Homo sapiens: one gene and its partners. The protein of the gene in region 2 purifies or fractionates together with the protein of the main gene of each other region. This does not show direct contact. Each region holds a gene or a part of one and is shown on either strand. Other genes may lie near its edges.

The links.
Region 1: the proteins of KIF23 (region 2) and G3BP1 purify together in Homo sapiens (affinity purification with mass spectrometry; 2 studies listed by BioGRID). This does not show direct contact.
Region 3: the proteins of KIF23 (region 2) and BAG2 purify together in Homo sapiens (affinity purification with mass spectrometry; 2 studies listed by BioGRID). This does not show direct contact.
Region 4: the proteins of KIF23 (region 2) and LIG3 purify together in Homo sapiens (affinity purification with mass spectrometry; 2 studies listed by BioGRID, with this or other methods). This does not show direct contact.
Region 5: the proteins of KIF23 (region 2) and SUPT16H purify together in Homo sapiens (affinity purification with mass spectrometry; 2 studies listed by BioGRID, with this or other methods). This does not show direct contact.

Annotation. Positions count from the first base shown.
Region 1 is NC_000005.10:151,791,373-151,797,210, reverse strand, and holds part of G3BP1 (ras GTPase-activating protein-binding protein 1), read right to left. Parts: intron 3,053-5,838; coding exon 2,962-3,052; intron 1,733-2,961; coding exon 1,636-1,732; intron 1-1,635. UniProt on the Homo sapiens protein: Protein involved in various processes, such as stress granule formation and innate immunity. Plays an essential role in stress granule formation.
Region 2 is NC_000015.10:69,419,364-69,425,201, reverse strand, and holds part of KIF23 (kinesin-like protein KIF23), read right to left. Parts: intron 3,556-5,838; coding exon 3,450-3,555; intron 3,211-3,449; coding exon 3,074-3,210; intron 2,877-3,073; coding exon 2,767-2,876; intron 2,044-2,766; coding exon 1,873-2,043; intron 1-1,872.
Region 3 is NC_000006.12:57,180,940-57,186,777, reverse strand, and holds part of BAG2 (BAG family molecular chaperone regulator 2), read right to left. Parts: intron 4,747-5,838; coding exon 4,637-4,746; intron 3,001-4,636; coding exon 2,588-3,000; 3' UTR 1-2,587. UniProt on the Homo sapiens protein: Co-chaperone for HSP70 and HSC70 chaperone proteins. Acts as a nucleotide-exchange factor (NEF) promoting the release of ADP from the HSP70 and HSC70 proteins thereby triggering client/substrate protein release.
Region 4 is NC_000017.11:34,985,407-34,991,244, reverse strand, and holds part of LIG3 (DNA ligase 3 isoform alpha precursor), read right to left. Parts: intron 5,258-5,838; coding exon 5,114-5,257; intron 1,780-5,113; coding exon 1,582-1,779; intron 283-1,581; coding exon 131-282; intron 1-130. UniProt on the Homo sapiens protein: Isoform 3 functions as a heterodimer with DNA-repair protein XRCC1 in the nucleus and can correct defective DNA strand-break repair and sister chromatid exchange following treatment with ionizing radiation and alkylating agents.
Region 5 is NC_000014.9:21,358,851-21,364,688, forward strand, and holds part of SUPT16H (FACT complex subunit SPT16), read right to left. Parts: intron 4,654-5,838; coding exon 4,588-4,653; intron 4,479-4,587; coding exon 4,383-4,478; intron 4,300-4,382; coding exon 4,184-4,299; intron 4,098-4,183; coding exon 3,944-4,097; intron 3,475-3,943; coding exon 3,347-3,474; intron 2,364-3,346; coding exon 2,228-2,363; intron 2,123-2,227; coding exon 1,996-2,122; intron 1,684-1,995; coding exon 1,565-1,683; intron 760-1,564; coding exon 634-759; intron 1-633. UniProt on the Homo sapiens protein: Component of the FACT complex, a general chromatin factor that acts to reorganize nucleosomes. The FACT complex is involved in multiple processes that require DNA as a template such as mRNA elongation, DNA replication and DNA repair.

The DNA of each region.
Region 1 (5,838 bases), on a different chromosome or scaffold from region 2:
TGAGAAATATCATTCTGCCACCATTTATTTCACAAAAAATTCCTCCATCATTTATTAATCAGAAACCAGAACACAGAGTTAGCTCCTTCTATCCAAAACAAAAATCTAAGAATTGTATATCTATCTGAGTTTTTAAAAAGTAATTTTTAAAATGCCACTCAATAACTTAACTGGAATCCATTTGTTTGGCAAATTCTGATAAGCAAATGAATCAGGACATCAAAATGAACCAAACCACTTTATGGCTGGAATCCCACAACTATTACAATTCATTTAGCATACAACATCAGAAAAACTCTCAAAATAGGCTGGGGCGGGGGGGGCGGGAAAGAAAGTTGCCATTCAATGGGTATAGTCTGTTTATAAGGTATATAAAGTTATCTTCAATAAAAGTTGTAAGGTGAAAAGTCCTAGATATCTGTCATAGAACCACATCTATACAGTTAACACTACTGTACTTTACACTTAAAAATGGTTAAGATGAAAAAAAGGTTAAGATGGCAAATTTTATGATATGTGGCTTTTAACACAAACACACAAAAACTCTTTCAAGCACATAAGGAATTTGGGGGAGAAAATAGTTATGATTCAGAATACAATTCTTAAAATTCCACATAAATCAACCAGAAATGCTGTTAAAACTGCAGAGGGGGCTGGGCACACACCTGTAATCCCAGCACTTTGCGAGGCCAAGGTGGGCAGATCACCTGAGATTAGGAGTTCCAGACCAGCCTGGCCAATATGGCGAAACCCCATCTCTACAAAAACACAAAACTTAGCCGGGCATGGTGGCGTGCGCCTGTAGTCCCAGCTACTCAGGAGGCTGAGGCAGGGGGATTGCTTGAATCCAGGAAGCGGAGGTTGCAGTCAGCCAAGATCGCGCCACTGCACTCCAGCCTGGGTAACAGAGCAAGACTCTGTCTCAATAGAACAAAAACAAACAAAACTGCAGATGTTTTGCCTCCTGAAAGTCTAATTCGGTAGGTTTGCAGTGGGACCATGAATCTTCATTTTCAACCAGCAACCCAAGTGAGTAACCTGATTAGTTCATCACACCTTAAGAAACACTTGAAAACACCCTTCAGGCACTGAATATTAACATTCAGTATCACATGGTAACAAGTAAATATGGATTTCTATTGCTATCAAACACATTTCTGTTCTAATCACAAGGGGGAAAAAACCCAAAGGTATAATGATGCACTTACTAACGTAATGAAATTCTTTATTGCTACTTAACTCACATATTGGTATTTATATCAATTTATGCCCGATCTCTAATTAAATAGGTCTCTGTCCACTTCATATTCCCTCAAAGCATTTAATACCTCAATACATTCAACTCTTGATAAACAATATGCAAGTTTTCACTTAACACCAAGAAAAAACTAAACCAAAAAGAAACTGATACTATTTAAACTAAGCAATAGTAGATTGCCTTCATAGTACAATTTACTATTAACAAACAAGTTACATATTTTTGTTTAGTCAAAATTACCAGAAACAAAACCATTCTTCTGAGAAATTATTATTTTGAGGTAATTCTCAGAATATGTAAATGCCCTCCAACAAAGGGAAAGACTAGACAATGCAAGTTCTTATGCAGCCCCGGACATGTGAACAAAATCTTCTTACCTGACAACTGCCTGATCATAGAAAGTTCCAGAATCATCAGGTACCACCTCAGGTGTTTGCTGTCTTTCTTCAGGTTCCTCTACTTCTTCTTCAGACTCTAAGTGAGAAAAAGATATTTAAAGTAATTTGTACTTACTGAATTCACATATACATTAACTTTCGCAATGTTCACAAAACAACAGTGAAGAAAAACATATATAAATAAACAAAGTAGGACAATTTGGTAAAATCATGGCACTGACTTTAAGGACAGAACTAAGGCTTTGAAGAACAGACTTTTTTTTGTTTTTTGTTTTTTGAGACGGAGTCTCGCTCTCTCGCCCAGGCTAGAGAGTGCAGTGGCGCGATCTCGGCTCATTGAAAGCCCCACCTCCTGGGTTCACGCCATTCTCCTGCCTCAGTCTCCCGAATAGCTAGGACTAAGGCGCCTGCCACCACGCCTGGCTAATTTTTTGTATTTTTAGTAGAGATGGGGTTTCACCATGTTAGCCAGGATGGCCTCGATCTCCTGACCTCGTGATCTGCCCGCCTGGGCCTCCCAAAGTGCTGGAATTACAGGCGTGAGCCACCGCGCCCAGCCTTAAGGATAGACTTTAAGGCTACTGTAGTGTCTTGGTTTTTAAGAGCATGGAGCCTAATGCAGGCTCTGTCACCTTACTGGCTACGTGACATTAGCCAAATTATATTAGGCAGTTATCTAATGCAGGCTCTACCACTTTACTAGGCAAATGATTGCTTATCTGTAAAACTGTATTACAAAATAAATATACTCTCAGCCATATAAACAACACTCAATTCTACTATTTTGGAGAAAATTTTCCATAAGTCTCTGTGTCTACACATCTTCCATGCCTACCCTTTCTTCTAGACTGTCTTTCAAGAACATTTATATAGCAAACAGCTTTGAAAGAGTATCTCCCTCCAGCACAAAGAGTAGTCATGTTTACTGCCTGTTGTAATAGATCTGGGTTCCCTAAACTCAGTGTCCCATGCCTTTAACACAACCCACTGCAGTAGAAGTATCACCTAGCCTTCTCCATGACATCCTATTGGTAAATGTGGCAAAAATACTACTACTGTCGCTGTGAGTTAGCCTGTCTCCTTCTGACCTAAGAGTCTTATGTCTTCTACTAACATCCATGATATAAGCTAACCTGTTAGCAGCTTCAAGTAGGGTAAAACCTCAGACTCTTCATATACCATAATTAGTTATTAATGAAGAACAGAGTGTAATGAAAACAGTAAAGAAACCCATAGTCTCTTAAGGGCAATCGGATGCCATTAAAAAAAATTTAGACAAGTAATTTAAAGTATTTCACTACTTACCCTCCTGAGGCTCAGTGACAAACCCACCAAAGACCTCATCTTGGTATCTGAAGATATCATTGTGAACATAGAATTTATTTGCAACAGACCCCTGCAATGCCAACAGAAAGTTTTAATTTATTCAACAGACTTTTAGAAAGTCAAATCACTCTACACCATTGGTGACTGGGACAAGTCTGCCTCCATGAGACATCTGGCAATATCTGGAGACATTTCAGTTTTTGTTGTTGTGGGGTTCTGAGACAGGGTCTTGCTGTCAGCCAGGTGGGAATGCAGTGAGCCACCACAGCTCACTGCAGCCTTGACATTCCAGGCTCAAGCAATCCTCCTGCCTCAGCCTCCTAAGTAGCTAGAACTACAGGGGCGCGCCACCATGCAAGGCTAATTTCTCTTTTTTCTTTTTTTTTTTTTTTTTTTTGAGTAGAGACGGGATCTTGTTATATTGCCCGGATTGGTCTTTAATTCCTGGGCTCAAGTGGTCCTCCCGCCTCAGCATCCCAAAGTTCTGAATTATGGGTATGAGCCAGCATGCCCTGCTGACATTTCAGTATTCACTACATGGAATGCTACTGACAACTTATAAGGTTAGGGATGCTGCTAAATTCCTACAATGCACAGGACAGGCTCCCACAACAAAGAATTAGTTAATCCAAAATGTCAACAGTGCCAAGACTGAAAATGCCCACTCTACAATAGCCGGTAAAAAGACTACACTCACATACATTTTGTTTGCTCAGAACACTTTACCTCACCACAAGATAAATATCCAAAAACTGACAAAGCCCTAAGCATGTAAATGCCACAGCCCACACCTCAAAACATTATAAGGCAATCATATCCCGGATGGGCACAGTGGCTCATGCCTGCAATCCCAGCACTTTGGGAGGCCGAGGCAGGCAGATCACCTAAGGTCAGGAGTTCAAGACCAGCCTGGCCAATATGGTGAAACCCCATCTCTACTAAAAATACAAAAATGAGACAGGCATAATGGCCCACACCTGTAGTCCCAGCTGCTAGGGAGGCTGAGGCGGGAGGATTGCTTGAACCCGGGAGGTGGAGGGTGCAGTAAGCCCAGACTGCACCTCTGCACTCCAGCCTGGGCGACAGAGTAAGACCTTGTCTCAAAAAAAAAGGCAATCATATTCCTAACTTCAGCAGATATTTAAAATTCCCCAAGTCTGTCTCCAAAAATATTGATATAAACACTCAAGGGTAGTGCAGCCTGAAAAAGATTGCTCGCAGTAGGTATAAGACACACCTGAGTGCAGATCCAATTATATATTATGAGTTATTCAGTTTCTAAGGCTGTTACTCCTCTGTAAAAAGAAAGGTACCAGCTAGGCACAGTGGCTCACTCCTGAAATCCCAACACTTTGGAGAGCTGAGGTAGGAGAACTGCTTAAGCCCAGGAGTTTGAGACTAGCCTGGGCAACAGTGAGTTTTTTGTAGAGTGAGTCTCCACAAAAGCAGAAACAAAAATCAGCCAGGAATGGTGGCCTGCACTTGTGGTCCCAGCTACTTAGGAGGCTCAGGTGGGATTATCATTTCAGCCCAGGCAGTCAAGGCTGCAGTAAGTCATGATCCTACCACTGCACTCCAGCCTGGGTAACACAGGGAGACTCTTCTCTCAAAAAACAAAAAAGAAAGATATCAACATATACCTCAATACTCTCTGTATTAAATGAGACAGTTTATATAATAGTGTATTATACTAAGAAGTTAGATACTTCCTTTAAAAGAAAAAAACTGTAATTAAACCTGTAATTCACAATCATACTCCATGTGATTCTTTGCATATTTAGAAGTCTACCACATCTTTACATTTTAATCTAAGCCTTCCTCTAAAAATTATGACTATAATTGGCTTCATGTAATTTTGCACAGACAAAAAGTTATCTCATATTCAAAGGTTAAAAGATTTTAGGCGTTTCAGGTTTGCTATCCTAAAAAGAAAACTTAAGATTAATGCTAGAGAAAACAATGATTTAATCAACAATTTCTTACTATGCCATTTCTATATACATGCTTAAGCAGACAGGATTCCTAACCTTGTTCAGTCTAGACCAATCCGGAAGAAAACACAAATGCAATCATTCAACATAAACTTGTCGTCCTTTCATAAGTATAACTAAAAAGAACCAGGCCTCCTTGAAGGAACAGCTGATTCAAGAATAGGGACTGGGCCAGGAACAGTGCAAGATGAACCTGGAAAATATTTTGCCATAAGTGTTCAAGAAAGATAAAAAGATAGAGAATCTCCCATCCTTCATTTACAAATCAAAAAGAGAAAAAATAAGGCTGGGCATGGTGGCTCACACCTGTAATCCCACTTTCGGAGGCTGAGGCAGGCAGATCACTTGAGGTCAGGAGTTAGAGACCAGCCTGACGAATATGGTGAAACCCCATCACTACTAAAAATACTAAAATCAGCCGAGTACGGTAGCACACGCCTATAGTCCCAGCTACTCGGGAGGCTGAGTCAGGAGGACAGCCTGAAACCAGGAGGCGGAGGTTGCAGTGGGCAGAGATGGAGCCACTGCACTCCAGCCTGGACGATACAGTGAGACTCCGTCTCAAAAAAAAAGAGAGAGAGAGAAAAGATATTTAACTTTACAGTGGCAAAACCTAACTAATCAAAATTCATATCACAACTAAATGACATAATATGCCTAATGTGAAGCACTGAATGACACCCATAAAGCATCCTACAAAAAAAGTGTGCTCTTCAAAAATGTCAATGCAATAAAAAAAAACAAAAGATTAAGGAACAAGTGCAGATTAGAAGAGACTAGAGACATGATAGCTAAATGCAATGTGTAATTATAGATTCCATGTTGGACAAGGAAAAAAAATTACTGTTAAGACATTATTGAGATA
Region 2 (5,838 bases):
ATCACAATGAGTCATATCTTAAAAACCCTCCACTTGTAATAGTTTTTCATTGTATTAAAAGTACTAAAAGTTAACTAGCTTAAAAAAGCAGGTCTAACACCAACCTAACAAATTAAATCTGAATTCAGGGCCAAACAAGCACCCTTGTATGTTCATTTAAGGAGTTACCCAGAAAGGTTACAAAGCACACAAGGTACTTTTGTCAATCTTCTTTTGTATAACTAAATAAAGCCAAGATATGATCCTTTGAAAATAATCTCATTTAGAACAAACCAAACAAAAAGTTGGCACACGAGCATACATGAAAATGGGTATACTCAAGATTAGAGTCAAGACAGTTGACACTTTAAAACAAATGGGAAAGTAATTAGTTTGATATAAAAAGTGATGGTCAGGCCAGGCATGGTGGCTCACACTTGTAATCCCAGCACTTTGGGAGACCAAGGTGGGAGGACTGCTTGAGGCCAGGAGTTCGAGACCAACCTGGGCAACCTAGTGAGACCCCTATCACTCCTATCTCTACAAGAAATTAGAAAATTAGCCAGGCATGGTGGCTTGTGCTTGTAGTTCCAGCTACTTAGGAGGCTAAGGCGGGAGGATCACCTGAACCCAGGAGGTTGGCTGCAGTGAGCTGACATGGCAGAGCAAGACCCTGTCTCAAAAATAAATAAAAAGTAACTGTCTCACAAGGTTTTAACTCTTCCATGTATTGCTCCACAACCTAACCCAAGTATTTTTACTATTACCAACATTCCAAGGGTAAATATAGATAGGTCACTCCAGAAATAAGTCCCTTTGTAAAGTTCTCACTTGAAGAAATGTTAAACAGAGCCAAAGAGTCTTCCTTGGCATAAACTCTTAGTATTAAGAGTGTTAATATTTTTACATTTAGCTTACTTAGCCATATTGTAATTGTTTTCCCAATAAACGTGATGAAAATTCAAGGACTCTGGTGAAGATAACTGTATCAAAATGTGACTCACTAAGAACCACAGAAATGCTTGTATCAAGTATGGCCTCAACCAGAGTCCATAAATTCTTCATGTAATTAAAAGTGGATATACTGGTATGTATTCTCAGTCTAATGATTTTCTAAATCCAGCTGTTTCTCCAATAATGTTCCCTTAGATATACAAAGTTAAATATAAGCCACAGGTCTTCGTATTATTTATGTCCTGAGAGGCCCTAATAAAGACAGCATTAAAGACAAGCCTTTAGCTGAAAAACAAAACCATCAACTCAGGAACAAGATACTAATATTAAACATAAGATCCCAGGGTCAACTCTGGCACAAATGCAGATTTATCATTTGTGATGCCAAGTGGTAACCAGTCTTACGTCTCAGAAAGGCAAGACCCAAGGAAATCTAGGAAGTAGTATTTCAACTCTGATGGAATTACAGTGCAGATATCATACCATATTAATGAATGATAGAAGATATGTAAGTATTACTTGTATAGATAACAGCTTTAGGCTCCAGTCTGTAGAAATCACCAAGACACGGGTGGTTAAAGAGCCTACAAAACTCCTTTTACTGTCTCAGGTTCTTGAAACGTTCTTAATTATATAATTAAGATCCTTCTCAAAACATAGCCCAGGGCCCAGAGTTTTCAAAAGTAATCTCCAAGATGAATATTTGGGTCCCTCTTCTCCTTAGATGCTTTAACCCACTAGTTCCCTAATACAGGTACATATCTAGTTAATAATAAACATACTCAAACACAAAACCACGTGATATACAAATTATATCATTTCATTCTGAAAACAAATGCAAGCATTATTCTCTTTCATAACTGAAGAAACTAAAACTCCTTGAGGCAAAGTAACTTCCCCAACATTAACAGCTAAGAAGGGGCTCTCTTTATTACTTACTTGGGTTTTATGGGATCAAACGGCACCTCTTCCAATAGATCATATATGTAATTATTATATATTTCAATATAAGAGACAAATACACCATAGACACTATCTTCATCAACCTCTTCTGCTTTGCAGAATTCTTGTACAGTTATCATATCTGCAAACTCTGGATCTACTTGTCGTCTAAAAAAAGAAAAGTTCAATTGTATACGTTATAAGTCCATTTTAAAAGTAAATGATCCCAGCCGGGCATGGTGGCTCACAGCTATAATCCCAGCACTTTGGGAGGCCGAGGCAGGCGGATCACCTGAGATCAGGAACTCAAGACCAGCCTGGCCAACATGGTGAAACCCCGTCTCTACTAAAAATACAAATTAGCCGGGCATGGTGGCGTGTGCCTCTAATCCCAGCTACTAGGGGGGCTGAGGCAGGAGGATCGTTTGAACCTGGAAGGCAGAGGTTGCAGTGAGCCGAGATCATGCCACTGCACTCCACCCTGGGCAGCAAAGTGAGACTCTGTCTCAAAAAAAAAAAAAAGTAACTGATCCCAAGGGGAAACTAACAGATAAAATAAATATCTGCAATTACAAGCAGAAATGCACAAAGCAGCTTTATTCATACTCATGGTTTGCCAACAGTATTCCCACGTCCTCCCGAACACACAACAATGGCTTTTATACCCTCTCCCCATCCAGAGTGGCACCCTCTTAAAACAGTGATTGAAACAAAATGTGCTCAAAGCCAAAGAGAAAACATCTGAGCAAAGAACTTAAGAACATTCCTTAACTTTAATCTCACAAAAGTCAACTTCTCTATTTAATGTTCACCATTCCTCATGTCTGGGCAAACCACAGGAAAGAATCCTGTGCCCCTAGGCCAGTGCTGCAGACAAATATAATTACTTACTTGCTAGAAGAAGTCTTTGGATTGGGCATAGCTTCTCTTTTCTGACGTTCTAATAAGGCATCAACCTCACACTGTATATCCATACTATTCCTATCATTAGATTTGAAAACCTGAAGTGGGGGCAAAAAAAAAAAAATCACACCACGTTTTTTAGAATTTAACTTAAATAGTAAGAAATATGTTTAAAAACTAAGGAACAGTTAAGGTTTCAAAATGAATCCAGTGCTTTGGTTCTTCTTTACTACTACTGTATCCATAGGTGTCTTAGTCCAGTAAGATAGTCACAACACAAAAGAATCATACTTACATATCGTTTAGCTTGAAATGACCCTATACTGTTAAAGATCATGTCCAAACAACGAGGAAGCAGCCCTCCTTCCCCTGGAGAACCAGTCATTGTGTGAGTTTTTCCACTTCCCGTCACACCATATGTAAAAAGAAGACCTACAGTGTAGCAAGTCACAATGAGTTATATCTTAGAAGTTCTCCACTTAGAGTATTTCTTCACTGCATTAGAAAACACTAACAATTAGCCAGCTCAAAAAAGGCAAGTTTAGCACCACCCTAACAAATTAAATATGGATTCAACACCAAACATAAATCAAATATATAAATATCAAAAAAGTTTTATCAGAAGAGGAGAAAAAGGAAAATCTAACAAAACTCCAAGAGTCATATCATACCATTTTTGCCATGAATGAGGTCATTGACCAAGGGATTAGCCACAACATCAAAGAGTTCCTTCTGGGTGGTGTGAGTGCCAAATACTTGTTTAAATGAATACTGAGTCTGTGGAGAGAGAAAAAAATGCACTAAATAGAATTCCACTATTATCTAGGCTAAAAATACATCTCCTTAAACTTAAGGTGTTTATGACATTTAAGATCTAAGCATGCAAAGAAAAAATATAAATGGTCTTTTTACAGTTGGAACCCTTAGTTATTTAGTTACTAAAAAGTCATGACATACCTATATCATACCAATTATAAACTGGTAAACGTTTTCAGTCACAACTACTAAAGAAAATGTAGAAAACTCTTTTTTTTTGAGACAGAGTTTTGCTCTTGTTGCCCAGGCTGGAGTGCAATGACACAATCTCGGCTCACTGCAACCTCTGCCTCCTGGGTTCAAGCGATTCCCCTGCCTCAGCCTCCCAAGTAGCTGGAATTACAGGCACGTGCCACCACACCTGGCTAATTTTTATATTTTTAGTAGAGACGGGTTTCACCATGTTAGGCTGGTGTCAAACTCCTGATCTTAGGTGATCCACCCACCTCAGCCTTCCAAAGTGCTGGGATTACAGGCGTGAGCCACCACACCTGGCCAAAAATGTAGAAAAGTCTTAAGTCTACTAATGCTTCTAATCTAAGGCTGATTTTGTTTTAATTAAGTGACAGAGATCAAAAGGTATTGTAACGATTCATAGTCACAGATTTGTGGAAATCTACAAGCATTATGTCATACACAACTTTACTGTTTCCTAGTTTTTCTTTATAAAGGTGTCATTTAAAATAGCAAAGCATGGGCATAGTGGCTCACACTTATAATCCCACTTTGGAAGGCTGAGGCAGGAGGATCACTTGAGGCCATGAGTTAAGAGACCAGCCTGGGCAAGCTCATCTAATAAAAAATTTTAAAAGTAAAAACAACAAAAAAACCTCACCAAAAAACAGTGAGCTGTGGTCACACCATTGCACACCAGCCTGGGCAACAAGTGAGACCCTGTCTCAAAAAAGAAAAAGAAAAAAGACATATAAAATAAAATGGCATAGCAGCATAATACCACGTTTTGATGTACTATAGTTTAAAACCAGAAGTAAACTGTAAATATTATCTCATCTCTGAGTTCTTACATGAAATACATTTTAAATAAATTGTGACCTTTAAGAAAGCAAGAATACTTCAATTATCAAGGCTCTCTAAATACAATTAATAAAATATCCTGTAAAAATCAGCTTTAGAGTTCAAAAAGAACAAAGAATCTTGGAACTGAAAGGATACACATAGGCTAATACTGAGAAGATAGATGACCTCACAGTCCTCATGAATGACTCCCTCCTTTCAAGGTAAAGAAAACTGAGGCCCGAAGGTGAAACTTCTCTGAGCCCATGGAGTTAATTAGTATCAAAGCCATCATCAGTGCAATGTTTTTGTTTTCTTCTTTTTTTTTTTGAAACAGAGTCTCACTCTGTCACCCAGGCTGGAGTGCAGTGGTAGGATCTCGGCTCACTGCAACCTCTGCCTCCTGGGTTCAAGCAATACTCCTGCCTCAGCCTCCCGAGTAGCTGTGATTACAGGCGCATGCCTCCACGCTGGGTAATTTTTGTATTTTTAGTAGTGATGGGGTTTCGCCATGTTGGCCAAGCTAGTCTCGAACTCCTGATCTCAAGTAATCCCTCTGCCTCGGCCTCCCAAAGTGCTGGGATTACACATGTAAACCATCATGCCCGGCAGCAATGCTCTTTTCATTATACAATGTTGCCTTCTGTCAGAAAGCAGTGACTATTTTTAATCCCCATCAAACCTTTTTATACCTACTCGATACCTACTCGATACCTATATTTATACATACTTGAAATTTACTTAAAGAAGTAAAACTCAGTAAATCAGTGTTTAACTATATTATATCCTTAAAGACCTGCTCCTCCAAAAAACCCTCCCAGACCATTCATTCTTGCTGAAGCCATATTTACTATTTGATGAACAGAACATATAAGGTACATATTCCCTGGAAGTTTACATTATGGTAGAGGAAAGACAATAAACAAGTAAACAAATAGATTGTGGTTAAGTAATGTAAAGGAGGCATACAGAGTACAGACCAGGGGAGAGGGGTTGTGGGGTGCTGTTTCTGATTGGGTAGTCTATACAACCCGAGGAGGTGATATTTAAGCTGAAACCCAACGATGACCCATGCTAAGACCCAGAAAAAGAGAAGTCCAGGTTAAGGCAACAGCTAACAGCCAGGATTCTGCCTTATCCAAGAAACTCAAAGGATTGGATGAATACTAAAAGATGAATGAAGGTGGAGAGACAGATGGGAGACGGATGAAGCAGGATTTTGTCTGTTCA
Region 3 (5,838 bases), on a different chromosome or scaffold from region 2:
ATTGAGATACAGCAAAACATACTCTATATCCACTTATAGTCTATATAAAAGACAATAGTTTAAATGAGGGTAAAAATGTGACTCAGGAGATTCATCATCATTTGAAAATAAATTATACTCCCATTCTTATAAATAAAAATACATGTTAAGAACCAACCCATTGGCCAAGCGTGGTGGCTCATGCCTGTAATCCCTGTACTTTGGGAGGCCAAGGCAGGCAGATCACAAGGTCAGGAGTTTGAGACCAGCCTGGCCAATATGGTGAAACCCCATGTCTACTAAAAATACAAAAATTTAGCCGGGCGTGGTGGTGGGCGCCTGTAGTCCCAACTACTAGGGAGGCTGAGGCAGGAGAATCGCTTGAACCCGGGAGGTGGAGGTTGCAGTGAGCTGAGATCACACCACTGCACTCCAGCCTGGGCAACAGAGCAAGACTCCATCTCAGAAAAGAAAAAATGAAACCTCATGAAGTAAATGAAACTATAGAAACTGCCTCCATAGCATATATTCAACACCAAACGTCTACAAAATGTTTGTTCTCTTCCCTTCACAGTCTCTTTTCCCTAACTCATATACTCCATAGTGTTCCTTGCTACAGTGGATATGTCTTCTACTTGTCAGACAGCCTGGGTGACAGAGCAAGACTCCAAAACAAAAAACAAAAAAACAAAAAACCACACTGGAGATTCCCTGCCCTTTAGATGTGGCTCTAGGTACAGAATGCTGGAGACACTGTAAACCAGGGACCCCAAGCAGCTTGGAAATGTGGATCATAGCTCTTCAAGTCTGTGATCAGAAATCAATGACCTCCATTAAAAACTCCATTGCAAAAAAATGGGAAAAATAATGCTAAGAATACCAAGGTCAAGGAGGCAGAGCCAGAATAATTTGTGTAGAAAAAGTCCTGGACTGATGTGGAAGCCATGGGAAGCAGGGAGCAGTAGTATTTCCCAGAGTGGAAGGGATTTACGGATGCTGACAATACTTGAGAACCTGAAGAAAACATGACTATCCATTTCTTAATTTTCAAAAAGCTGGTCAAGAAAAAAATGATGCACACAAAAAATCATCTCACAGTCTGATGACAGCAAATCAGTCTGCTAACAAACCAAGTGGCTCTGCCATAGATAGAATTAATGTTTCCCATGAAATGCAAAGATTTAAATAAGGCAGAGTTGGAGCTGGCAAAGGAAGTAACATGAATGTCTTCAGATTGTAACTGCTTTTTATAAAGAGACTAACTTGGCATTTTTGTAGAGAAAATGAAGTTTGATATTGCTTGCATTGAGAGATATATACATACATAAAGTCAGTTTGGATCTTGATTTGGTTTTTCAGTGTGAAGAATACCTACATTCAAATAAAAATTGATGTGTTCATTTCAAAATAGTATCCAGGGAAGTTGTTGTGGTTTTTGTATATCAATAGGACTAGTTACTTTGAACAAATAAGTGTTCTCTAGTTGCTTCACACTTTATCAGATAAAAGAAGAATCAACACACTGGTCAACCTTTTTAGTAAACAAAATGCAAACTAGGTATTAATGCTCAGTGCTGGAAATATTTCAGTGAAATAGCTATATTTTAATTACTGAAAAAAGTATAAATTGCTGTAACCTTTATACAAAAAAAGTTTAATATGTGTGAGGCCATGAAAACGTCTATATCCTTTGACCCAATATAATTCACTGCTGGGCCTTTATACAGAGAAAAACAAAAATGAAAGAAGGAAAAAGTCCTGTGTACAAAAATATGTTGCAGTAATAGCAACAAGTTGGAAACAACCTAAATGTCCATAAAAGAGGAATGGATAAAGATATAACTACACAAAATAGAGCTCATTAAGTTGACAATTAAGCAGACTTTATATCAGCATCTAACTTTTTTAAAAAAAGGCAAGTTACAATATAGGAATTTTAGAGAATTGATGCATTTGAGAAAAGATGAAGCAGATAGATATATAATTGTTCACAGTGGTAAATTATAGGTGGTTTTCTCACATTTTATGTCAGTTTCTTGTATATCAAAAAATACATTCATATTATGAGACACAGGAATCTTTACATCCAAAATAATTTGATACAGATGCCTTAACATTGCTGAATGAGACAACTTTGGAAAGATTCTTGTTTTGTGATTCCTTTTTACCCTCTAAGCACAGTGCTTTGTTAACACTGTGTGTGTAGTAAATGTGTGTGCTGCTTAAGGTAAAGAATTTCTAGTAAACTAAATGCCCAAGGTGACTGCGTGATTCCATGCCAGACAGGAAAAAGCAGTCATGCTTTTTGCCCCTAGCTGAACGTTTGTTTTCCCCACAAACTATGTATTCATCCACAGAATAGTGAAATATGCTAGATCCTAGTACAAGACAAGAATTCAATCTAAAAAATCTCTAGATAGATAATTAAAATATTGCTAGTTTTGTTATTCACAAAACTGAAGATACTTGATGGAATATTTTCCTCATCTGAAACAACTATCAGTGTCAACTAAGTGGTTATACCTAACAAAGAACTAGTTATCAATTAAAATAGTATTTTATCATTTTTACACCTTGTGTATTGTGTAAATGCTCTTAGGTTTGAAGACTAATTGAATCTGCTTTCAGCATTTTGTTGCAGAGTTTTGGAACCAGCTCCTTTAGAATGCTCTAATAGCTTGATGGCCTTGTCAGAGTTTTCAATATTTCTAAGCAGAGTCTCTAATCTTCTCTTAATTTTCTTCTGATCTTCAAGAGCACAGCCAATTACTATGGATTGAAACTTCTGATCAACTGGCCCATGTGGCACCTCAGATGAACATGCACTGTAGAGCGACATTAAATGACTCTTGGCATTTCCCAAATCATCCAGAAACTTATTGACCACCTCATCAATAATCCTTGTGGCATGCTTTAGGGATTCTTGCTGCTGGGGGTTTCTAATTGTTTCTACTGACACTTCAACGGTGAGAGTTCTTCCCATCAAACGGTTTGCAGTCAGATTTAATTCTTCTCTTTCTCCTAAAAATCAATATGAGATGTAAACTTATCTGTGTCAAAAACATTAAGGCATTTGTTTGTGACTAAATTTATTATTTTCTTTACCTCTGCCATGAAATTTTTTTAGAGATAAAAGCTGAAACTATAGCATGTAAGATTAACTGATGAAATGTATTAGATTACAGAAAGAGGTTGTAGAATACCACTTCCTGACAATCTGCATATATGGGATACCAGATGACTTCTCAAATTGGCATGTCTGCAAAAGTTTGGGTAGGTATGCATTTGTAACTGGGATGGAGATCAAGTCTTAACACTGTGAGCAGTAAGCACATATAGGGTTTATGCTGGGTAGAGCTCCAGAGATCAGATGTCCCAGATCTCTCCAGAACGACATGTGCATTTATCAGAATACAATGCCCCAAATTTTGGTTGAGAAAATGTAGCCACGATAGAAGATAAGCTGTCTTCTGTCGTCAATACTAGGCACTGACTTCATCCTTCTCCAGATAGAAGCAGGACAGTGGTCTAAAGTCTTGGCCAGCACGAGGAGCTCTATCAACATTTCATTATTTATATGAGAAAGTCAGCAAGCTCCTGCTTCTGTAACTTCCTAATTCATTGATCTTTGGGCAGGATAGCGTAGAGACTAGATCATGGCCTACCTATAGATGTGTAACAGTTTTGATCTGGATTTAGGTTGCTTACTTACCTCACCAGCCACTTGGCCCAGTACCATGTGGCCTGTGTGGCACCAAAGGAGCCCAAGTAGGAAGTCCAGTGCCAATAAAAGAAAATCAGAAGTGACCTATTCCTATTTCATGTTCTTCACATGAAAATGACAGCACAGGTTAGGCAGATGTCACATGCCTGTAATCCCAGCACTTTGGGAGGCTGAGGCAGGCGGATCACCTGAGGTCAGGAGTTTGAGACCAGCTTGGCCAACATGGTGAAACCCTGTCTTTACTAAAAATATAAAAATTAGCCAGGCGTGGTGGCACGTGCCTGTAATCCCAGCTACTCGGGAGGCTGAGGCAGGAGAATCGCTTCAACCCAGGAGGCAGAGGTTGCAGTGAGCCAAGATCGCGCCATTGCACTCCAGCCTGGGTGACGAGTAAAACTCCATCTCAAAAAAAGAAAAAAGAAAATGACAGCACATTTTTACATTCATGCCTTTTATTGGTCCTACAAGTTTCCTCATTTTCTCTGCATTTTGTCCCTTCTCTTTATGTTGTACCTCAATTCATCTTTTTTTTTTTTTTTTTTTTGGTCTCTACTTCTCTGCTTCCACTCTCTCACCCTCTTCCTCTGCTTTTTTAATCTCTTGCAGTCCAGTAACTTGTGAGGAACTGAAGTTAGGACTGTGAACCTGGGATAAAACACATGGCCTTACTGCTTGGGGCCAGCTTTTCTGAGCTTGCAGGCTTTTTCCTATCTCTCCTAGCCAGGGGCTTGGGGTAGAGAGCATGCTGGAAGAAATCTCTGAGTAAGTGGCTGCTGTAATGAACTGACAGCTGCAGCTGCTCTCTGTGGCTCACATTAAATGCTGTGGCCTGGTGTACGCATACCAAAAGTCAAGCAAAAATTGACCCACACTTATCATAAACTCTTTAAAGGAGTGTAAAAGATGAGCCCCTTCTGTGGAGATGGCTCTCACCGTCACTGATCTGCCTCATGTCCTGGCTATTTTGGATACTGTGGATCATTTCCAGAAGGATTTCTTTCTCTTGCTCAACAGCAGTTGCTGCTTCTCTCAAAGCTTCAACCCTATAGAAATTGGGAAAACAAAACGGTTATTGTATGCAGGATGTTCTTCCTATTAATTTTCTTTATCTCTCATTCAACCCAAATCAAGTTTAAAGATCACCAAACTTTTCAAAAATTCTTCATTTCTGCTTTAAAATTCTTTCATTTTTCTATACACTTGCCTTTCTCCCATTTTCCTCCCAGCTCATAAGGCAATCATTCTTTCGTGTTTATCTAATTAATACTATTTGTTTTTTACAAGATCTGTATTATTTGTATATTTTGAATTTATATCTCATTCTGTTTTTATTTTTTCACTTAGCATCCAGGTTGCTAGATTTTTGTTTGTTTTTTGTTTTTGAGACAGTCTTGCTTTGTCACCCAGGTTGGAGCACAGTGGCACAATCTCACCGCAGCCTCCACCTCCCGCTTTCAAGTGATTCTCGTGCCTCAGCCTCCAGGCCCGGCTAATTTCTGTAGTTTTAGTAGAGACGGGGTTTCACCATGTTGGCCAGGCTGGTCTCAAACTCCTGGGGTTTCACCATGTTGGCCAGGCTGGTCTCAAACTGCTGGCCTCAAGTGATCTGCCCACCGCAGCCTCCCAAAGTGCTGGGATTACAGGTGTGAGCCACCACACCCAGCCCCCTATGTGTACTTCTAATCAGTTGCTGCTAATTGCTGTATAATACTCCATGTGTATACCTACCTGATTTTCCCTCTCCACTCTCCCAGAGATGGACACTTAGGTTGTCTACCAGCTTCTCATTACTACAAATAACACTTCTATGAATACATCTCCCCTTTGGACCTTGGTGAGGATTTCCTTAGGACATATACCAGGACAGAACTGCTAAGACAAAGGGTATGTGTACTCTGCTTTTGACTTAGTATTATGACTATTCTGCAGAACACCTGTACCTATCCACTCTCCACAGCAAAGCACAGGGGTCCCCATATCCCTACCAACATTCTGCATTTTCCAACTTTCTATTTGCTGCCAGTGTGACAGAAATACACTGATATGTCAGTGTTAACTTGTGTTTTCCTAATAATTTCAGACATCTCTTTGTATCCTTGTTAGCCTATTCATAGACTTTTCCTATTTTGCTTTTC
Region 4 (5,838 bases), on a different chromosome or scaffold from region 2:
TTGCTCAAATGGGTTTCAGTTTCCTAAAACAGTATGTGTCCCAACCAGAAAAAAAAAAAGAGGCTGCAGGTGCCTGGCTTGGCAAAACCCCACCTGGAATGTAGCCTACCCTCCCTCCCGTTCCTCTGACCTGCTCTAGGTCCCGTGCCATATCATCTGGGTTGCAGTTAAAAATGCGACTGAAAAGCTTCACAATCTGCTTATCGTTCAAGTTGTAAACAGTCTTAATGACTCCTGGCAGCAGCAGCTTCACTGTTAGGTACACATCACCGTGGAAACCATCTGGAGACAGAAGGAACCCTTCTTGAGAAATAGAGCTTAAACAAATAAATATATAAACTCAAAGAAGGCTGGGCAAGGTGGCTCACACCTGTAATCTCAGCACTTTGGGAGGCCGAAGCAGGAGAATTGCTTAAGCTCACAAGTTTGAGACCACCCTGGCAACAAAGAAAGACCCCATCTCTACAAAAAATTAAAAAATTAGCTGGACATGGTGGCATATGCCTATGGTTCCAGCTACTTGCAGGAGAAGACAGGAGGGTTGCTTTAGCTCAGGAGGTCGAGGCTATAGTGAGCTGTGATCACACCACTGTACTCCAGCCTGGGCGACAGAGCAAGACACTGTCTCACACACACACACAAAAATAAATAAAAAAATAAACTCAGACCGCGCATGGTGGCTCACGCCTGTGATCCCAGCACTTTAGCAGGTTGAGGTAGGCAGATTAATTGAATCCAGGAGTTTGAGACCAACCTGGGCAAAACAGCAAAACCCCGTCTCTACAAAAAATACAAAAATTAGCCAGGCATAGCGGCACATGCCTATAGTCCCAGCTACTTGGGAGGCTGAGGCAGAAGGACTGCTTGAGCCCAGGAGGCGGAGGTTGCAGTGAGCTGAGATTGCACCCATGCGCTCCAGCCTGGGCAACACAGCCACATTTTTTGTCTCAATAAATAAACAAACAAACAAACTCAAAGAAGCAGAGACCAAAAGATATCTATATATCGCTGCCCATGCTCCTATAGTACCCTGTGCATATCGCTATAGTAGGAGACAGCATGGAGTTCAGAGGCTGGTGGATTGTGTCTGCCTCACCTTTAGCCTACAGATGAACTCTTGTTGGACAGAGTGGTTAGTTTCACTTCACGTGCCCAGTGACAAGGACATCAGAGATGCTCATCGACAATTTGTTAGATAAATGAAAGAAACAGAGTTGGAAGATTCTATTCCAAACTGTGTATATGGTTCACAAAAACCTAATTAAATATGTAGGACAGTAAATTTTCTAACTAGTCAAATAGGATGGGTTCTTCTGGCCTCCTAGGAGCAGAATAAGGGGAGAGGAAGACAGATGCCAAAGTGCTCTGAGAAAAACTGGCTACATAATTTGTGGAGTACAGTGCAAAATGCAAATGCGAGGCCCCTTGTTCAAAATTATTAAGAATTTCCAGATAGCACTACAGTACAGCATTAAACCAAGCATGGGATCCCGGGCAACTATACAGCTCACATGCCCAGGAAGGCAGCCATGGCCTTGAGCTCTCCGGAGGAAAGGCCTATTCAGGATGCTCATGCCACACCTCCTGCTGAGCCTTTCCGAAGGAAGTCCTGGATGATCTGGGTCTTCGTGTTGTAGCTAGGATTATCGGCCACCATGGCGCATAACTTTCGAAACTCCCGTAGCAGACAGTCCTTATGCCTGGGGTCACATTTGCTTGAAGACAGACTTCTCTTAGGGGTGGGGCTCGAGGGGGCTTCCCCAGAGTTGTTGGGCTTGGCTGTTGGAGAAACAACAGAGATGAATTCATTCTGCCTTTCTGAGAAGAAAGAAAGGGAAGGAAGGAAACTAACAGATATTCTGCTGGTATTTAGCTTTATTTAATCTCCCCGAATAGACTTTTGGGGTAGATGTCATTATATCCATCTTACAGATAAAGAAATGGAGGCCAAGTAATTTTCCCAAATCTTACAGCTAATAAATAATGTTAAAGGAACAATGGCCTCCTTAGACCCAAGCAAAAGACCAGACTGATGTGCATCTCTTTATGTGAGCACTTTACTGAAGAATAAAGACCAAAGTCATGCCAAGAATGATCAGGACTGGCTGGGCACAGTGGCTCACGCCTGTAACCCTAACACTATGCGAGGCCAACGCGGGAGGACTGCTTGAGCCCAGGAGTTCGAGACCAGCCTGGGCAACATAGTAAGATCCTGCCTCAAAAAAAAAAAGTGGTCAGAAGGATCTCAGAGCAATTGTAAAGCTGATCCCAGAAAAGCTGGCATGAGAAAGGGGTAAGAAATCAAGTACGTGTTAGACAATGTGAAATTACTGCTATCACAGGTTGTCAGAGCTGGAAGAAGCCTTAAAGATTATCTAGTTCAATGTTCTCTTACTGATAAGGGGACTGAGGTCTGAGAAGAGCAAATGACTTCCTGGCCCACTTCCTTGTTGAAAGAGCCAGGACAAAGACACTACTAAGAAAGTCAGATTCCATTAGTACACTCAACATCCCTACCCCTCGCTGCTTCAACTTTTCTTTTCTTATTGTCAAAATAAAACCCTGCTCCCCAAGGAGCAGTTATAAAAAAAAAATAATACATTTTTACAAAAGGTGGTCAAGGGGCAGGGATTTCCTCCAGACACTTAAAAATAATTATGTGCAACTCATCGGTGATTCCCTTTCACCTCCTTGTGACCATTTAAAAAGCAAATTTTATTCGGCAAACTTGTGGCAGAGCCATTACTAAGCTAACTGCTGTTGTACACTGTTTCTTGTCTGGGCTTTGTAAATTATAAATCCATCCTCATCTCTGATCCGGAATCTAAATATGATTTTAGGGGACAAAATCTCCAAAGTGTCAATGTTCAACCAGGTTGCAAGAACTAAAACACTCTCTTTCTCTCAACTCCTCCCAAATTCCATCCCCAACACCGGAGCCCTTCCAGAAACATGCTGTCCTTATCATCACCTGGACTCTTCTCTATCTTTGGCCTACCAGCAAACAACAAACCAACCAACCTCAGAATTTTTTTTTTTTTTTTTTTTTTTTTTGAGACAGAGTCTCGCTGTCGCCCAGGCTGGAGTGCAGTGGCGCGATCTTGGCTCACTGCAGGCTCTGCCCCCAGGGTTCATGCCATTCTCCTGCCTCAGCCTCCTGAGTAGCTGGGACTACAGGTGCCTGCCACCACGCCCGGCTAATTTTTTTATTTTTAGTAGAGACAGGGTTTCACTGTGTTAGCCAGGATGGTCTCGATCTCCTGACCTCGTGATCCGCCCGCCTCGGCCTCCCAAAGTGCTGGGATTACAAGTGTGAGCCACCGCGCCCGGCCCAGAATTTTTAAATAATAAAAATCCTATAGAGCCAGGCACCGTTTTTGCAATGTTATCTCTTACAGTCCTCATGAGAACACTATGGGGTAGATGAGGCATGGAGATATGATGAAGCTTAAACAAATAAATACACAAACTCACTGAAGCAGAGGGGAAAGTAATCTATATATTGCTGCCTGTGCTCCTATAGCACCCTGTGCATAGCACTATGGTAGGAGAGGCCACTGCTGCTTCATAGACAGAGGCTAAAGAGAGGTAAGGACGTGCTCAGGGATCTGAGCTGTCAAGGACCAGAACCCAAGTCTTCTGACCTCAGGTCTAGGCTTCTTTCAATCACATAAAATGTCTTTCAATCTCCAAATGACTTCTAAAATAAGGCCAAGTGGTTTGGCTTTATTTATTTTCTTCAGCTGAGTCAATCACAAGAATGTCTCCAAACAATAAAAGCAGCAACACAGTGTAGTATAAAAGAGCACAAGTACTGAAGTCAGACTTCAGTACAAATACTAACTCCATGATAACCCTGAACGTCAACTTTCTCAGTCATAAAAAGGGCCTAATAAAAAGTACTTCCTAAATAAAAGTACTGTCTAGGGTTAACTGAAGAAGAAATGAAACTACATATATAAAAGCCCCTAGTCCAATGCTGTCTGTTTACGTAAGGCCAATAAATGATCCTGATCTTCTCAACTCCTATCTATACCACATGCCCCAGCAAAGTCTTCCTGAATCCCTGTCTATGAAATAGTAATTCTATATTTTATATAAAAGAAACTATATATGTGTGTATACACGTGTGTGCATGTGTGTATTTTAGTGAAGAGAACAGGAAACTTAACACTTTATTGTTCATCTGTCCTACAAATAATAGCCACAGTCCTCCCCTTTAGGAGATGGGATTTGAACCCAGAGCTCACTGATTCCAAAGTCTGCAAGCTTCATCCCTAGGCTGTACTGCCTCCCAACAAATAGCAATATCCTTCAGATCTTTTTTTCCTTCCTTTGTGTTCCATGAAGTTCCAGTGTTTTGAATAAACAGTTTTAAGAATCAAGAAGGGAGATCCATGCATGACATCTCCCTTCTTTCATACTTTCATTTCTAGGCATATTCAGGGAAACAATTTCTCAAAATTCTTTCATTATCAAAACACAAGGAAGTAAAAGACAGGTTCTAATAATCTCTGTCTGGCCCAGGTAACTATTTCAAGGGGAAAAAGTCTTGACAAAACAAATCTTTCCGCTGCGATAGAGGTTAAAGTATACAAAGAAATGCTATACAAGTGGAATGCTGGCCGAGCGCAGTGGCTCACGCCTGCAATCCCAGCACTTTGGGAAGCTGGGGCAGGTGGATCACCTGAGGTCAGGAGTTTGAGACCAGCCTGGCCAACGTGGCGAAACCCCATCTCTACTAAAAATACAAAAATTAGTCAGGCATGGTGGCAGGTGCCTGTAATCCCAGCTACTTGGGAGGCTGAGGTGGGAGAATCGCTTGAACCCAGGAGGCGGAGGTTGCAGTGAGCTGAGAATGCACCACTGCACTCCAGCTTGGATGACAGAGCAAGATTTCATCTCAAAAAAACCCCCAAAACCAAAAAACAAACAAACAAACAAAAACCAAGCGGAAGGCTTAGAATTAGCCATTACCAGTCTCTGCTCAGACAGAAGCAAATTATTAATGAGATGAGATAGCACAGAATTTTCACTCTTTAGCCAGAATCCTAGGTAGAATACAAAATAAAAGCAGCACTATAACAGCTAAAGTAGCCCTAACCTATCTTACCTGAAAAGCCAGAAAATTTCCGGGGATTGGTACTGGTGACAAATGAGGCGCCTTTCACTGGAGAAGTCACCTGGCCAGTGGTTGTCAACTTAGCCTGGACAACAGCTTTCTTCTTTGGTGTACCTGCTGCCTTAGAAGACAGATCTGTAGGATCCCAAAAGAGTATAAAATATCCTTCAGTGAACGATCTCTGAAAAAAACATCCAAAGAATCTATCAACTGCTCCTAGGGCCTTGCTTGTTAAGTCACTACCCTAGCACTAGCCCAAGGCTGGCTGGTGGCTGGTATTTTTTGAGTGGGGGTAGTAGGTAATAGGGTATTGTGGGGACAGAAGGGAAGGATATGCTGGAGACAAAAGATCCAGTTACCATTTATCTCTATTAGTACCTTAAATTTTCATCAACATTCTCCACTTCTTATCCCATATGTAAGTCTCCAGAAATAACAATTTGGGGGAAATCAGAAATCATAGTTTGATGGATAAAACTTAGGGAACCCCCAACCCCACAGAATTAGCTTCAATTTAGAGATGAACAAAAAGTAAATGAGGATCACAGAGCATGTCAACCTAGCATAGGAAGGAAAATTTCCAGATGCTTAGTTATCTGAGTCATGAACTCTACCTGTATTTCTCTTCCTCCAAATGAGAGATGGGTCAAGAAGTAACAAAGGCCGAGGCCAATAGCTAAGGCAGTGCAAGGTGGGATGGGGAGCCTGAGAATAAA
Region 5 (5,838 bases), on a different chromosome or scaffold from region 2:
AGGCTGGAGTGCGGTGGCGCGATCTTGGCCCACAACCTCTGCCTCCCAGGTTCATGCCATTCTCCCGCCTCAGCCTCCCGAGTAGCTGGGACTACAGGAGCCCGCCACTACACCCGGCTAATTTTTTTGTATTTTTAGTAGAGACAGCGTTTCACTGTGTTAGCCAGGATGGTCTTGATCTCCTGACCTCGTGATCTGCCTGTGTTGGCCTCCCAAAGTGCTGGGATTATAGGCGTGAGCCACTGCACCTGGCTATTTATTTATTGAGATGGAGTCTCACTCTGTCGCCCAGGCTGGAGTGCAGTGGCGCTATCTCAGCTCACTGCAACCTCTGCCTCTTGGGTTCAAGTGATTATCCTGCCTTAGCCTCCCGACTAGCTGGGACTACCACCACCCACCACGCCCAGCTAATTTATGTATTTTTAGTACAGACAGGGTTTCACCACATTGGCCAGGCTGGTCTCGAACTCCTGACCCTCAGGTGATCTGCCCATGTTGGCCTCCCAAAGTGCTGGGATTACAGGCGCGAGTCACCACGCCAGCCCAGTTTGTTTATAAAATACAATCCCTGAGCTTGGATTTGGCCTCATCCTCCCTCACTATCCTGCAAATACAATACTAAATTTCACAAACCTGCTCAGCATAGAGGTCATCTCGGTCATGCATATGCTGATGTTTCCCCAAGTCCGTGGTTATCTCTCCCACTTCTGTGTAGAACTGCACATCCGTGTGCCGCTTCTTCCCAAACATGATGGCATTCTGTCGGCATAAAACAGAAAGAACACAGAAGTCAGAAACACAAAGGTATCTGTGATGGAAATGGCAGTGATCCAAACTTGGGCCTCCACAGCATGCATGCAAAAATAATTAAACCACCCCTGGTGTCATCATAAATAATGATGCTTGGGAATGGAAACAGTGTACATTTGAAAAAGTGCTGTGCTCCTACTTATTACAGGAACTTTGGAAATCATGTTGGTAACAAATCTTATCTAAAGCAAAACTTCATTTTAGAAAGAGAAATCTGGAGATCTCGTATAAAACATTTGCTGGCCACCATATAACACACCAAAGGAACAAACATGCTTATGAGCCCCTTCTAGATGCCAGGCCTTGTGGCCTTTAGAGGCATTATTTTATTTAATCCTCTTAAATGTTCTTAAGTGAGAGGTGATTTTTTCATCACTTTTTTGTTTTTTGTTTTTCACACGCTGTCGCCCAGGCTGGAGTACAATGGCGCGATCTCGGCTCACTGCAACTTCCGCCTCCCAGGTTCAAGCAATTTTCCTGCCTCGGCCTCTCAAGTAGCTGGGATTACAGGCGCTGGCCACTACGCCTGGCTAATTTTTGTATTTTTAGTAGAGACGGGGTTTCATCATGTTGGTCAGGCTGGTGTCGAACTCCCGACCTCAGGTGATCCACCCACCTCGGCCTCCCAAAGTGCTGGGATTGTGGGCATGAGCCACCGCGCCCAGCCCTTTCATCACTATTTTATAGGAAAGAAGCTGAGTGAAATGAAGTGTCTTGCCCAAGAGCTGACAGCTAGTTAAGTAGAAAGGTATACCTTGAGGTGAAAGTGCAAGACAATAATCATTTCTCCATCACAGGGCTGGAACAAAGCATGCTTAATATTATTGTACAAAATATCCACTTTGTCTCCTCGAACAGATGTGAAGCGGAAGCCTGGGGAAAAGAATGAAGAAATGTCAAGCAGTATAATTAAGTTAGGCCAAAAGGCACTGCAACTCTTCTGGCTGATTTGCACAGGGTCAGAGGAAACACCAACAGCTGTATAGAGCTTTCCTTTCCTTCTGGCCACACAGCAGTGTAAGTAGATTCCTCCCAGCATTTCCTTGTCATACTTTATTAGCACCATGCTTTAACCAACTGAGCTAACCGGCGGATGGCTCTTTGTCATATTTTATTATCTGATCTGTCATTCCTAACAAATGTGCCCTGAAGAGAAAGCCTAGGTACAGGAGAGATCATCCATACCATTGACATGGGCCTCCAGTGAGCCTTGCATCCTCTTTTGGGCAATATTTGGGCGAATGTATAGATCTTTCAGTTTCGGATTACTCCGGTTTAGATTGATCACCAGTGAGTCTTGTTTTACAATCCCCTAAGCAAGAAGAAAATTAATGTGAATTGTCACATATCCTTACAAGTCTCCAAAAAATACATGTCCTTCTTTGTGTAAGAATGTTTTGCCTGTGTTCAGGCTCACCTCCTTCTCTTTCTCTTCAGCTTCTCGAGTTTTATAACGTTTCTGTACTTCTTTAATAATTCGGAAAGCATTCTGAAGGTTCAAGGCTGGTACTGTCTGTTCTCCGGGTGCCTTAATATTTGATGCTCGGTATGTACTGCAGAAAAGCAACAGCATTTATAGACATTTCTTTTTCAGGCCAGGGAAATTGTACTGATTTACTTTATCTTCTAAGCAGCTTAATCTCTACTTTGCTTTTTTTTTTTTTTTTTTTTTTTGAGACAGGGTGTGCCTCTGTCACCCAGGCTGGAGTGCAGTGGCCCAATCTTAGCTCACTGCAACCTTCGCCTCCTGGGTTCAAGCCATCCTCCCACCTCAGCCTTCCAAGTACCTGGGATTACAGGTACACACCACCATGCCCGGCTAGTTTTTGTATTTTTAGCAGATACAGGGTTTTGCCATGTTGACCAGGCTGGTCTTGAACTCCTGGCCTCATGTAATCTGCCTGCCTCTGCCTCCCGAAGTGCTGGGATTACAGGCGTGAGCCACCATGCATGCCCATTCCTTCTTTTTTCATTTTTCAAATCTGGTATAACATCCCCAAATTATCCCATTTCACACCATGAAATCATAGAATCCAATGTGGCACCAGTTTTCTTATTTGAAGATTCTACTGCAATATATGTTTATTACTTTTAACACTTATTTTCATAATTATTTTTTTTTTGAGACAAGGTCTCGTTCTGTTGCTCAGGCTGGATGGAGTACAGGCAAGATCAGGGCTCACTGCAGCCTCAACCTCCCAGGCTCAAGGAATCCTCTCACCTCAGCCTCCACAGTAGCTGGATGACGGGTGCACACCACCACCCCTGGTTAATTATTTTTTAGAAGAGACAAGGTCTCACTATATTACCCAGGCTCAAAATATGTTTAGTAAATATATAGTATCTTCAAGAAGATTCTAAATTGGGATCCATCCTGAAAATAGTACAAAGTCAAGAAGGCGATCCGAAACAAGTACCAATGAGGAAGGCTTTGACATTTACTAGGTAGGGAAAATGTAGCACAGACAATGAAATGTTTCTGAGAGTACCACTCCAGACAAGATGAATCTGGGTATGACTTTTCTTGGGGACTCACATTTCCTTGACAAAAGTCGCTTCAGGGTTAGGAAAGATGTTGCCTTCATTCCTGCCCAGAGCACTGCCTGGGCAATAAAAGTTGATTCGCAAGTAAGTATAATCTCCTTCCACGGACATACTTATATTCTGTTCAAAGGAAAAGCATAAAAAGTAAACAGATTTCTTTCCTAGAGATTAGTAGTTACAGAGATGTTAAAATTAAGTTAGGAGTTACAAATTGACCGCTCTTAACCTTAATCTAAATCTAATAAATTTACATAATTTATCTTTTTAATAACGAAGTATCCTTTTCCCAAAAAAATCTCTGAATTCTCAAAGTACCTTGTACCATGAATACAACTAAAAGTTAAACAATGATTAAACGAAGTTGAAAGAAAGATAGGCAAATTATGTTTCTAGACTAGTTTAGCTTTCTACTAAGTGAAAAAAACTGAAAGAGGAAGGAGAATGACAAGACAAGAGGGATGTCAGTAACTGAACAGAGTCTGAAGGAGTCAAAAGTGGGAGACATGATGAATGCAGATTATTTATGGCAAATACAATTACTATTTTAAGCAACAGTTTGGATGAAACCTGATGCACTGAATGTCAGTACCTTGATTGTGGCAATGTGAAACGGTGTTGCAATGCCAAACACGGGCATTATTACAGTCTCATATTTCTTATCGATGTAGATCTTCATTTCCCGAATATGTGGTTCCTTAGGCATCAGAGATGGGTTTTTATAGGACACATTAGACTTGCGAGCTCTGGAGTGGGATAAAAAAACAACTGAGAAATTTCTGCAGTCCCACAGAACCCTCAGATGATCTCACTGCTCAGTGAAAACTCTTACTTCTGAATCTGCTGTTCTCCCTTTTGTTCAGTCAATCGCCTCTTTGCTTCTTCATTGAGTTGAGCCGCTAGTTCTTTCTGATGTGCTCTTCGCTTCTCTTCTGCAGTCATTTCATTCTGGTGAATGGAAAATCCAATTTATCACAACACGTGAGCCATATGACAGCCGAGATCAATGTAATTTAAAATAGTAAACTTACTCTTGTTCTTTCTGTAAGTAATGCTGCCCGAGAACCTCTTCCCAAAAGGTCCTCTGCCTCATCTTTCTCCTCCTCCTCTTCTTCCTCATCTTCATTCTATGGAAAAAGTCATAATCAAAAAATGAAATTTTAATTATTTTAGCCAATATTATTTAACTTCTTTATATCCTAAACTTCCTATACTACTTATCTATCTTCTTCCTACCTTTAGGAAAATCCCCACATTCTTCACTTTCTTCTTCACAGAAGTGAGAACAGTAGCTGGGCCATCCTAGAATTAAAAGGAGAATGAAGACACATTATTTAAAAGAGGCAATTTCATTTTCTAACCTAGTAAACGGCTGGGCAATGCTTTGAATCTTTTGGACACTAAAATGTTTGACAATGAATAAATATAGTTTTTATCCTTCTAACCTCTAACCTCTCGTCAGGAGCTACAATTTTTTTTCTTTTTCTTTTTTTTGAGACAGAGTTTCACTCTTGTCAACGAGGCTGGAGTGCAATGGCGTGACCTCAGCTCACTGCAACCTCCGCCTCCCGGATTCAAGTGATTCTCCTGCCTCAGCCTCCCGAGTAGCTGGAATTACAGACGCGCACCACCACACCTGGCTAATTTTTGTATTTTTAGTAGGGCCGGGGATTCACCATGTTGGTCAGGCTGGTCTCAAACTCCTGACCTCAGGTGATCCACCTGCCTTGGCCTCCGAAAGTGCTAGGATTACACGCGTGAGCCACTGCGCCCAGCCAAGAGCTACAATTTGGGAGGCAACATTGGGTAATCACTAATACAGGTTTGATTTGAAGCCTGGCTCAGTTGCTTTCTACCTCAGTGACATTTGGCAAGTTACTTAAACTTGTCTGTGCCTTCAATTTATCTGTAAATGGAGGTAATAAGAGTATCTACTTCACAAGGTACTATTTCAATGAATTAATGTAAACTGCTTAGCTTATGATAAAAACACTGAACTATCTGTGCTCACTATTATTAAAAATCAGTTCGCTGAGGGAAAGAAGCCAGTCACAAAAGACCACATAGGGTATGACTGAATTTACATCAACTGCTCAGATATTTAGCAAATCCTTAGAGAGAACGCAGTTTAGTCATTGCCTAGGCCTGAAGAACCAGTGGGGGAAGGGAAGGGGGATGGGGAGTGACTGCTAATAGGTTCAGGGTTCTTTCCTGAGGTGATGAAAATATTTTCAAATTAGATTGTAGTGATGGTTACACAAATGTGAAAATACTAAAAATCACTAAATTGTACATATCAGGTGGGTGAATTGTATAGTATGTGAATTGTAGCTCAATAAAGCTGTTATTAAAAAGAAAAAAGAATAACCGGTTTCATTATTAGTATTAGTTCCTGATATTATCATTATCAAGGTTCAAGCCACAATATGACAATATGATTTAAAGGTTTATATCATTCCCTATACCTGGGCTACAGTCTCTATTCCT